Linked DNA regions of Homo sapiens: region 2 is linked to region 1. The links come from fine-mapping of genetic effects on gene expression. Tissue or cell type: whole blood. Region 1 holds a variant in brackets; the other region holds the start of a gene. All regions are shown on one strand. Distances are between the middles of the regions.

Region 1 (5,147 bases):
CCCTGACATTTTAATGGGGGAGGCAGAGACAAATAATAAACAAGTACACAAATAAACGCAGAATATAATGGCAGAAGGTGAACCTCAACAAATACCAGGGTAAGGAGTCTGATTTGGTGGGGTACGGGGAGACTTTAGATAAAATGTTCAGGACCCACAGAGGTGGCACGTGAACAGCTATGCCAAGATCTGAGATCAGCTATGTCAAGATCCCAAAGTGCTAGGATTACAGGCATGAGCCACTGCACTTAGCCCAATAAAGTTGATTTTTAAAAAAAAAACATAACAGCTCCCTCCCCCTCCCCCATCCCCCTCCCCCTCCCCCTCACCCGCTCCCTCTTTCTTTCTTCGGTCTCCTTCTGTTGCCAAGGCTGGACTGTACTGCCGTGGTCTCGGCTCGCTGCAGCCTCCCTGCCCCGGGCTCCCCTGGTTCTCCTGCCTTGGCCTGCCGAGTGCCTGGGATTGCGGGCACGCGCCGCCACGCCTGACTGGTTTTTGTATATTTGGAGGAGACACGGTTTCGCCCTGTTGACTGGGCTGGTCTCTGGCTCCTGACCTCGAGTGGTCTGCCCGCCTCGGCCTCCTGGGGTACTGGGATTGCAGACGGAGTCTCGGTCACTCAGTGCTCAGTGTTGCCCAGGCTGGAATGCAGTGGCGTGATCTCGGCTCGCTGCAACCTCCACCTTCCAGCCGCCTGCCTTGGCCTCCCAAAGTGCTAAGATTACAGCCTCTGCCCGGCCGCCCCGTCTGGGAAGCGAGGAGCACCTCTGCCTGGCCGCCCCGTCTGGGAAGCGAGGAGCCCCTCTGCCCGGCTGCCACCCTGTCTGGGAGGCGAGGAGCGCCTCTGCCCTGCCGCCACCCCGTCTGGGAGGTGAGGAGCGCTTCTGCCCGGCCACCACCCCGTCTGGGAGGTGAGGAGCGCCTCTGCCTGGCCGCCACCCTGTCTGGGATGTGAGGAGCACCTCTGCCCGGCCGCCACCCCATCTGGGAGGAGTGCCTCTACCCGGCCGCCCCGTCTGTGAAGTGGGCGCCTCTGCCCAGCCACCCCGTCTGGGAGGTGAGGGGCGTCTCTGCCCGGCTCCCCCGTCTGGGAGGTGGGGAGCACCTCTGCCTGGCCGCCCTTCATCTGGGAGGTGGGGGGCGCCTCTGCCCGGACACCCCGTCTGGGAGGTGGGGGGCGTTTCTGCCCGGCTGCCCCATCAGGGAGGTGGGGGGCGCCTCTGCCCGGCTGCCCATCGTCTGGGATGTGAGGGGCGCCTCTGCCCAGCCACCACCCCTTCTGGGAGGTGAGGAGCGCCTCTGCCAGGCCGCCCCGCCTGGGAAGTGTACCCAACAGCTCCGAAGAGACAGCGACCATCGAGAAAGGGCCATGATGACGATGGCGGTTTTGTCGAAAAGAAAAGGGGGAAATGTGGGGAAAAGAAAGAGAGATCAGATTGTTACTGTGTCTGTGTAGAAAGAAGCAGACATAGGAGACACCATTTTGTTCTGTACTAAGAAAAATTCTTCTGCCTTGGGATGCTGTTAATCTATAACCTTACCCCCAACCCCGTACTCTCTGAAACATGTGCTGTGTCAACTCAGGGTTAAATGCATTAAGGGCGGTGCAAGATGTGCTTTGTTAAACAGATGCTTGAAGGCAGCATGCTCCTTAAGAGTCATCACCACTCCCTAATCTCAAGTACCCAGGGACACAAACACTGCTGAAGGCCGAAGGCCGCAGGGACCTCTGCCTAGGAAAACCAGAGACCTTTGTTCACGTGTTTATCTGCTGACCTTCTCTCCACTATTATCCTATGACCCTGCCACTTCCCCCTCTCTGGGAAACACCCAAGAATGATCAATAAATACTAAAAAAAAAAAACAAAAAAACCATAACATTGCCGGGTACTCACGCCTGTAATCCCAGCACTTTGGGAGGCCGAGGGGGGCGGATCTCCAGAGGTCAGGAGTTCAAGACCAGACTGGCCAACATGGTGAGACACTGTCTCTACTAAAAATACAAAAAATTATCCAGGTGTTGTGTCGTGTGACTGTAATCACAGCTACCCAGTAGGCTGAGGCAGGAGAATCACTTGAACCTGGGAGGCGGAGGTTGCAGTGAGCCGAGATCATACCACTGCACTCCAGCCTGGACGACAGAGTGAGACTCCGTCTCGAAATAAATAAATAAATAAAATAAAATAAAATAACATTAGGCTGGTGCCGTGGCTCACGCCTGTAATCCCAGCACTTTGGGAGGCCGAGGGGGGTGGATCACCCAAGGTTAGGAGTTCAGAACCAGCCTGGGCAACATGGCAAAACCCTGTCTCTACTAAAAATAAGAAAAATTAGCCGGGCGTGATAGCGTGCCTGTAGTCCCAGCTACTTGGGAGGCTGAAGCAGGAGAATGGCTTGAACCTGGGAGGTGATGGTTGCAGTGAGTCAAGATTGCGCCATTGCATTCCAGCCTGGGTGATACAGCAAGACTCCATCTCAAAAAAA[T/A]TTTTTTAAAAAGATAACATTGGCTTATTGGCTTCTGGGTAGAAAATTGACAATAGAGGTCCAGTTTGGAGGTTCATGCAGTAATCCCAGGCAAGAGAGGGTAGTGCGTGGCTGCACCTAGAGATATAATTGCAGAGGTGAAAATGAGGGGGTGGGGGTGGGAATTGGGCTACACTTTGCAGATGGACAGGCAGAACTGGGTGTGGAAAGCGAGGACGGGGAGGAACAGAGGATGACTTCCAGGTGGACACCCGGTCAACATATGGGGTCCTTAGGTGATAGAGAGGAGGATGAAGGTGGAAATCCAGCCCCCTTCACCTGAGAAAAGGTTGAAGAATCTCTTGAGATCCTTTTTGACCTTATAATTCTTTGTTTTCTTTAACTTTTTTTTTTTTTTTTTTTTTTTTGAGATGGGAGTCTCACTCTGTTGCCCAGGCTGGAGTGCAGTGGCCCAGTCTCAGCTTACTGCAACCTCTGTCTCCTGAGTTCAAGTGATTCTACCTGCCTCAGCCTCCCAAGTAGCTGGAATTACAGGTGCACGCCACCACACCCAGTTAATTTTTGTGTTTTTAGTAGGGACGGGGTTTCACCATGATGGCCAGGCTGGTCTCGAACTCCTGACCTCAAGTGATCTGCCCACCTCGGCTTCCCTAAGTATTGGGATTATAGGCATGAACCACCATGCCCAGACACAATTCTTTGTTTATAAGCCCTTCCAGGCAGGCATGCCATATGGAGAAGAATTCTCAATATCCCCATCTCACAGATGAGAAAACTGAGGCTGAGAGACTCTCCCAGGATCCCCAAATGGGAACTGAGGAAAACTGGAATTCTAGCTCAAATCTTCTTTTTTTTTTTTGAGATGAAGTCTTGCTGTGTCGCCCAGGCTGGAGTGCAGTGGCATAATCTCGGTTCACTGCAACATCCGCCTCCCAGGCTCAAGTGATCCTCCCACGTCAGCCTCCTAAGTAGCTGGGACTACGGGGCCTGCACCACCACACTGGCTAATTTTTGTATTTTTAATAGAGATGGCGTTTTGCCATGTTGGCTAGGCTGGTCTTGAACTCCTGACCGCAGGTGATCCACCCTCCTCAGCCCTCAGACTCTCACAATGCTGGGATTATGGGCGTGAGCCACTGTGCCCGTCCCTACATAGTTTTCTTTAAGTGGACCCACTTTAAAACAAACAAACAAACAAAAAAACCTTATCTTTATCCTAAACAATAATATTGGAGCTGGGCCAGGCGCGGTGGCTCATGCCTGTAATCCCAGCACATTGGGAAGCCGAGGGAGGTGGATTATGAAGTCAAGAGATCGAGACCATCCTGGCCAACATGGTGAAACCCCATCTCTACTAAAAATACAAAAGCTAGCCAGGCATGGTGGTGGGTGCCTGTAGTCGCAGCTACTCGGGAGGCTGAGGCAGGAGAATCACTTGAACCCGGGAGGCGGAGGTTGCAGTAAGCCAAGATTGTGCCACCGCACTCCAGCCTGGTGACAAAGCGAGATTCCGTCTCAAAAATTAAAATAAATAAAATAAATAAATAAATAATATTGGAGCCATCACAGGTTTTATGTGCTAATTAGATAATTTTCTAACACATAAATATGTAACTATTAAAATAAGGAATCTGGCCGGGCGCGGTGGCTCACGCCTGTAATCCTAGCACTTTGGGAGGCCGAGGCGGGCAGATCACGAGGTCAGGAGATCGAGACCATACTGGCTAACACGGTGAAACCCCGTCTCTACTGAAAATACAAAAAATTAGCCAGGCGTGGTGGCAGGCGCCTGTAGTCCCAGCTACTCGGGAGGCTGAGACAGGAGAATGGCGTGAACCCGGGGGGTGGAGCTTGCGGTGAGCCGAGATCGCGCCACTGCACTCTAGCCTGGGCGACAGAGCGAGACTCTGTCTTGAAAAGAAGAAAAAAAAAAAACTGAGCTGGGCATGGTGGCTCATGTGTGTAATCCCAGCACTTTGGGAGGTCGAGGTGGGAGGATTCCTTGAGCCCAGGAGTTTGAGACCAGTTGGGCAACAAAGTGAGACCTCTCTGTGTCTGCAAAAAATACAAATAAAATAATAAATCTTTGTACTAGCTACAACCTCTCATTCCACCAGTGGCAGTTAGTCACACTACATTTGGGAGAATTATGCCTGGGACCACCCTACAGTGTTGCATGTCAACTCAGTACTCATGAAATATACATGATATATTTATCTAGATACAGCAGTTATAGACCACACTTTGTCAACACATAGTAAACGGACTAACGCGACACTTAACCTCACACTTCCACTCCTTAAGAACTGATCTGCAGGAAATCATTAAGGAAGTGTTCCGAGATTTAACTATAAGGATGTTGTCCTAGCATTGCTGATTATAGTGAAAATTTGTAACTAACTAAATTTTATCAGGAGATTGGCTAAGTAAATCCTGGTACAATTATATGATGCAATGCTGTTTTACCCAAGGAATTGATGTTTCAGAAGAATGTTAAATGCCATGAAAAGATGATCACACTGGACTGGCCACAGTGGCTCATGCTTGTAATTCTACCTCTTTGGGAGGCCAAGACTGGAGGACTGATTGAGCCTAGGAGTTCAAGAACAGGCTGGACAACATAGGGAGGCCCCCAGCTCTACAAAAAATTAAAAAAAATAACT
Region 2 (5,147 bases), 76 kb after region 1:
TCTGTCTCAAAAAAAAAAAAAAAAAAAGAAAAGAAAAGAAAAAAGAAAAGAAAAAGAAATACAGTAACGTGAAATCGAGCTACTTCTAACTTTTTTTTTTTTTTTTGAGACGGAATCTTGCTCTGTCACCTAGGCTGGAGTACAGTGGCGCAATCTCAGCTCACTGCAACCTCTGCCTCCTGGGCTCAAGCAATTCTCCTGCCTCAGCCTCCCAAGTAGCTGGAATTACAGGAGCCCGCCACCACTCCTGGCTAACTTTTGGTATTTTTTAGTAGAGACGGGGTTTCACTGTGTTAGCCAGGATGGTCTGGATCTCCTGACCTCGTGATCTGCCCACCTCAGCCTCCCAAAGTGCTGGGATTACAGGCATGAGCCCCCGCACCCGGCCTACTTCTGACAGTTTTATGGTGTGTGATATAGGATATAACATGATGTATGAAGCTCTTTGTAATAATTTTTAATTTTGAAATAGCTGATTCTTTGGGGATCATTTAATACATAATTCCATAGGTTTCAGTGAAAAAAAAAAAAAAAAAGAGATCTCAGGGTTGGGCAAGGTGTCTCATTCTTGTAATCCCAGCAATTTAGGAGGCCAGGGTGGGAGGATTGCTTGAGCCCAGAAGTTTGACATCAGCCTAGGCAACATGGCAAGACCCCATCTATACAAAAAGTACAAAAAATTAGCTTGGCGTGGTGGTGTGTGCCTGTAGTCCTAGCTACTTGGGAGGCTGAGGTGGGAGGATCACTTCAGCCTGGGAGGTCAAGTCTGCAATGAACTGAGATTGCTCCACTACACTCTAGCCTGGGCAACGGAGTGAGACTGCTTCTCAAAAAAAAAAAAAAAAAAAAAAAAAAAAAAAAAAGATTTGATGGAGGTGAATTATTCTATGGATGTTTGTTGGCTAGTTTTCTAGGAAGAGGGAATGGCTAATGCAAAAGCCCCCAAGTAAAGCCTGCTCTGGAAAAGCAGCAGAGCATCATCTGGGTAGAAAGCAAGTAAGTGAGGAGGAAAACATCTGAGATGATCAGAGTGGGCGTGAGGGACAGATAGGTAAGGGCCTTGTAGGTACTTTAGGTTTTAGATTTTTACTCTGTAGGAAACGGAAAGTTTTAAGCAGATAAGGAGATGAGCTGACTTAGGTTTTTTTTTTTTTTTTTTTTTTTTTGAGATGGAGTCCCTCTCTGTCACCCAGGCTAGAGTGCAATGGTGTGATCTTAGCTCACTGCAGAGCTCACAGCTCCCGGGTTCAAGCGATTCTTCTGCCTCGGCCTCCTGAGTAGCTGGGATTACGGGCATGCGCCACCCCACCTGGCTAATTTTTGTATTTTTAGTAGAGACGGGGTTTTGCCATGTTGGCCAGGCTAGTCTCGAACTCCTGACCTCAGGTGATCCACCCGCCTCGTCCTCCCGAAGTGCTGGGAGTATAGGCGTGAGCCACCGCGCCCGGCCAGGTTTTAAAGGATCCCTCTGTTTTGGTAGGCGGAAAAACTAGAGAAGACGAGAGACCATTCTGAGGCCGGGCGCGGCGGGTCACGCCTGTAATCCCAGCACTTTGGGAGGCCGAGGCGGGCAGATCACGAGGTCAGGAGATCGAGACCATCCTGGAGAACATGATGAAACCCCGTCTCTACTAAAAATACAAAAAAAAAATTAGCCGAGCACGGTGGCGGGCGCCTGTAGTCCCAGCTACTCCGGAGGCTGAGGCAGGAGAATGGCGTGAACCCGGGAGGCGGAGCTTGCAGTCAGCCGAGATGGCGCCACTGCGCTCCAGCCTGGGCGACAGAGCGACACTCCGTCTCAAAAAAAAAAAAAAAAAGAGAAACCATTCTGTTTCTAAGCATGTGCAATTATGTCTCAGCTCCACGTCATACCTTTTAGTTTGCTGAGCTCGCCAGGTGGCACAGGGAACCGGGACTCCGAATTCGCAGCTCCAGCTCCAGCTCCAGCCCAGCAGGTGGCAGCAGCTCAGAGCAAGCTCCTCCAACGCGAGGCAGCGCCTTCCTTCGCGACCCTACTTAAAGGCGGCTTTCCGTTGGCTGGAGTGGCAGCGATATTATCCAATGGTTGCCTGTATTCGTTCAGCTTTGTCTGACGGGCGATGGCGCAGCCAATAGACAGGAGCGCTATCCGCGGTTTCTGATTGGCTACTTTGTTCGCATTATAAAAGGCACGCGCGGGCGCGAGGCCCTTCTCTCGCCAGGCGTCCTCGTGGAAGGTTCGTGTGCTAGTTAGATGGGCGCCAGGGGTCGCCGGCGGGAAGCATGGAGGGGTCTTTGGGGGCCTTTGGGAACATGGAGTCCTATTCTGTTCCGCCTGGGGCCTCGGTGGCGGCTTGCACGCCCCGAGATGACGGCCGCTGCCCTAGGCAGGGCCGGCGGGCGATTGCGCGTGTCCTGCTCCTCTTAGGCCCGGGACCGCGGGATGGGTGTCGGCGTGACCAGGCCTGAGCTCCCTGTCTCTCCTCAGTGACATCGTCTTTAAACCCTGCGTGGCAATCCCTGACGCACCGCCGTGATGCCCAGGGAAGACAGGGCGACCTGGAAGTCCAACTACTTCCTTAAGATCATCGTAAGTGCAGGGTGGGTCGCCTCTGCTCTTCATGTTGCCCCAGCGCAAATAGGGACAGTCAGCTGCTATGTGCTGAGGGTCTACTCACACCGGCTACTGAATTAGGCCATTTTTGGGAAAATACTGTTTAGTTAACAATTTCCTGAGATAGGTCCCTTCTGTTGCAGATAAACGGGCTCAGGCAAGTTAAGTGGGTCCTAAGATGACAGCATTCGTATCCAGGTCTGTCTGGCTTCTAAAAGAGCGCGCTTTATACTTTTTTTTTTTTAAACGGAGTCTCGCTCTGTTGTCCAGGCTGGAGTGCAGTGGCTTGATCTTGGCTTACTGCAACCTCCGCTTCCCAGGTTCAAGCGATTCTCCTGCTTCAGCCTCCCGAGTAGCTGGGATTACAGGGGCGCGACACCACACCCAGCTAATTTTTGTATTTTCAATAGAGACAGGGATTCACCATGTTGGCCAGGATGGTCTCGATCTCTTGACTTCATGATCCACCTTCCTCGGCCTCCCTAAGTGCTAGGATTACAGGTGTGAGCCACCGCGCCCGGCCGCACATTACAGTTTTACTCCATTTTTGAGAAGGTCTGAGGTCAGGAATGACTCATTGTAAGGAAGCAAGCTGTTGCATATTTAGGACCTGTCAGCCAAGAAACTTAAGTGTCCAATGACTTTTGGATGGCCTTTGAGGTGGGTCTCCCTTGCCCAGAAATGCTGACTGTACTGCGCTTAAGCAATTAGGCAGCATTGTAGAGCATAGCTTGTATTACATTTTCCCACACTTAGAAGGTTTTCAGACACAAAACCCAAAGGAATTGTGTAACAATCCGGATAAACACGCCTAGATTGTTTTTACAAATAATAATGTTGCTATATTTGCTTAACGTGGTGCTTTTAATGCTGTGAATCTAGCCCTCCTCTTGACCAACTTACTTGGAACATTCCTTTTTTATCCTGTTAACCATTTTAGTGAATCAGAAGCATGCCTGGTAATTGGGAAAAATTAAAAACTAAGTAAAAAAAGAAAAAACTCCTTGATTGAATGTAGAAACCTAATTTTCAGCGTTCATACCCAGCTAGCCAATCATCCAGTTTGGCAGTGTTACAACGTAGCTCCCAATCTCCCTCTGACTTCAAAAGCTTAGAAGAAAGGGAGTGGGATGGAAACAAATTGTGGGGTTCAGTTTCTTCTGGCATTTTTTCCCTCTCTCTTCCTGTTAAACTTGGCTCCTCTGGCTTGTTTTTTGTAGCAACTATTGGATGATTATCCGAAATGTTTCATTGTGGGAGCAGACAATGTGGGCTCCAAGCAGATGCAGCAGATCCGCATGTCCCTTCGCGGGAAGGCTGTGGTGCTGATGGGCAAGAACACCATGATGCGCAAGGCCATCCGAGGGCACCTGGAAAACAACCCAGCTCTGGAGAAGTCAGTTCCCCTGGCAGTTTTGTCCTTTCTCCCCAGTGCCCGTCTCCCTCTTCCTGGAGAATGGTGCTGAAAGGTGATTGTCTCCCATAAACTTCTCTTTGCAGACTGCTGCCTCATATCCGGGGGAATGTGGGCTTTGTGTTCACCAAGGAGGACCTCACTGAGATCAGGGACATGTTGCTGGCCAATAAGGTAAGGGGACAATTGGGTTGGCTAAAGAGACTTTGTTGTTGCTCCTTAAAGCAAAATGGACCATTCTCAGGTTGTGTGAGTGGAGAGGCTTTTCTCACTGTTTGTTGTCTTTGTCAGGTGCCAGCTGCTGCCCGTGCTGGTGCCATTGCCCCATGTGAAGTCACTGTGCCAGCCCAGAACACTGGTCTCGGGCCCGAGAAGACCTCCTTTTTCCAGGCTTTAGGTATCACCACTAAAATCTCCAGGGGCACCATTGAAATCCTGGTGAGTGGACCTGGTTTGCCTGTGCTAACCAGGCAAATGGGGAGCTGCTTTTAGTGGCCATGGATCTGCTGGTTGTCCAACAGGTGTTTACTGCCCCACTATTATCTGGTTCAGAGTGATGTGCAGCTGATCAAGACTGGAGACAAAGTGGGAGCCAGCGAAGCCACGCTGCTGAACATGCTCAACATCTCCCCCTTCTCCTTTGGGCTGGTCATCCAGCAGGTGTTCGACAATGGCAGCATCTACAACCCTGAAGTGCTTGATATCACAGAGGAAACTCTGCATTCTCGCTTCCTGGAGGTATATGCTGTCAGCCTTGCCCCCTCTTACACTGATGGTTGAGAGCATGACAAGGTTCAGACTGAGTCCCTGTAACCAAGGACTGTGTTTTCATCTGTCTACCTACCTCATCTGTAAAATGTCAGTAACAACATAAGATTGTTGAAGGATTTTTTTTTTTTTTTTTTGGAGACAGAGTCTTGCTGTGTCGCCCAGGCTGGAGTGCAGTGGCACAATCTCCCGGCTCACTGCAAGCTCCGCCTCCGGGTTCACACCATTCTCCTGCCTCAGCCTCCTGAGTAGCTGGGACTACAGGCACCCGCCACTACGCCCGGCTAATTTTTTTGTATTTTTAGGTTTCACCGCGTTAGCCAGGATGGTGTCGATCTCCTGACCTCGTGATCCGCCCAACTCGGCCTCCCA

What was found. PIP is the estimated chance that this variant, and not a neighbour inherited with it, causes the effect.
Region 2: it holds the start of RPLP0, and the variant in region 1 is fine-mapped to the expression of RPLP0 in whole blood (TOPMed, PIP above 0.99).

Annotation. Positions count from the first base shown.
Region 1 is chr12:120,274,208-120,279,354 of GRCh38, reverse strand. No RefSeq gene overlaps it. Among named protein-coding and RNA genes, the nearest start is that of PXN, 11 kb to the right of the region's middle. The variant T/A (reference allele first, on the strand shown) is at 2,485.
Region 2 is chr12:120,198,152-120,203,298 of GRCh38, reverse strand. It overlaps RPLP0 (ribosomal protein lateral stalk subunit P0), which reads left to right and starts at 2,188. Exons shown (of 8, transcript NM_001002.4): 1 at 2,188-2,216; 2 at 2,468-2,569; 3 at 3,814-3,989; 4 at 4,094-4,181; 5 at 4,299-4,445; 6 at 4,560-4,745. The coding sequence starts at 2,516. It overlaps PXN-AS1 (PXN antisense RNA 1), which reads right to left and starts at 2,008. Exons shown (of 4, transcript NR_038924.1): 1 at 1,873-2,008. RefSeq lists enhancers at 1,673-2,032, 2,433-2,502, 3,543-4,484, 4,604-5,103.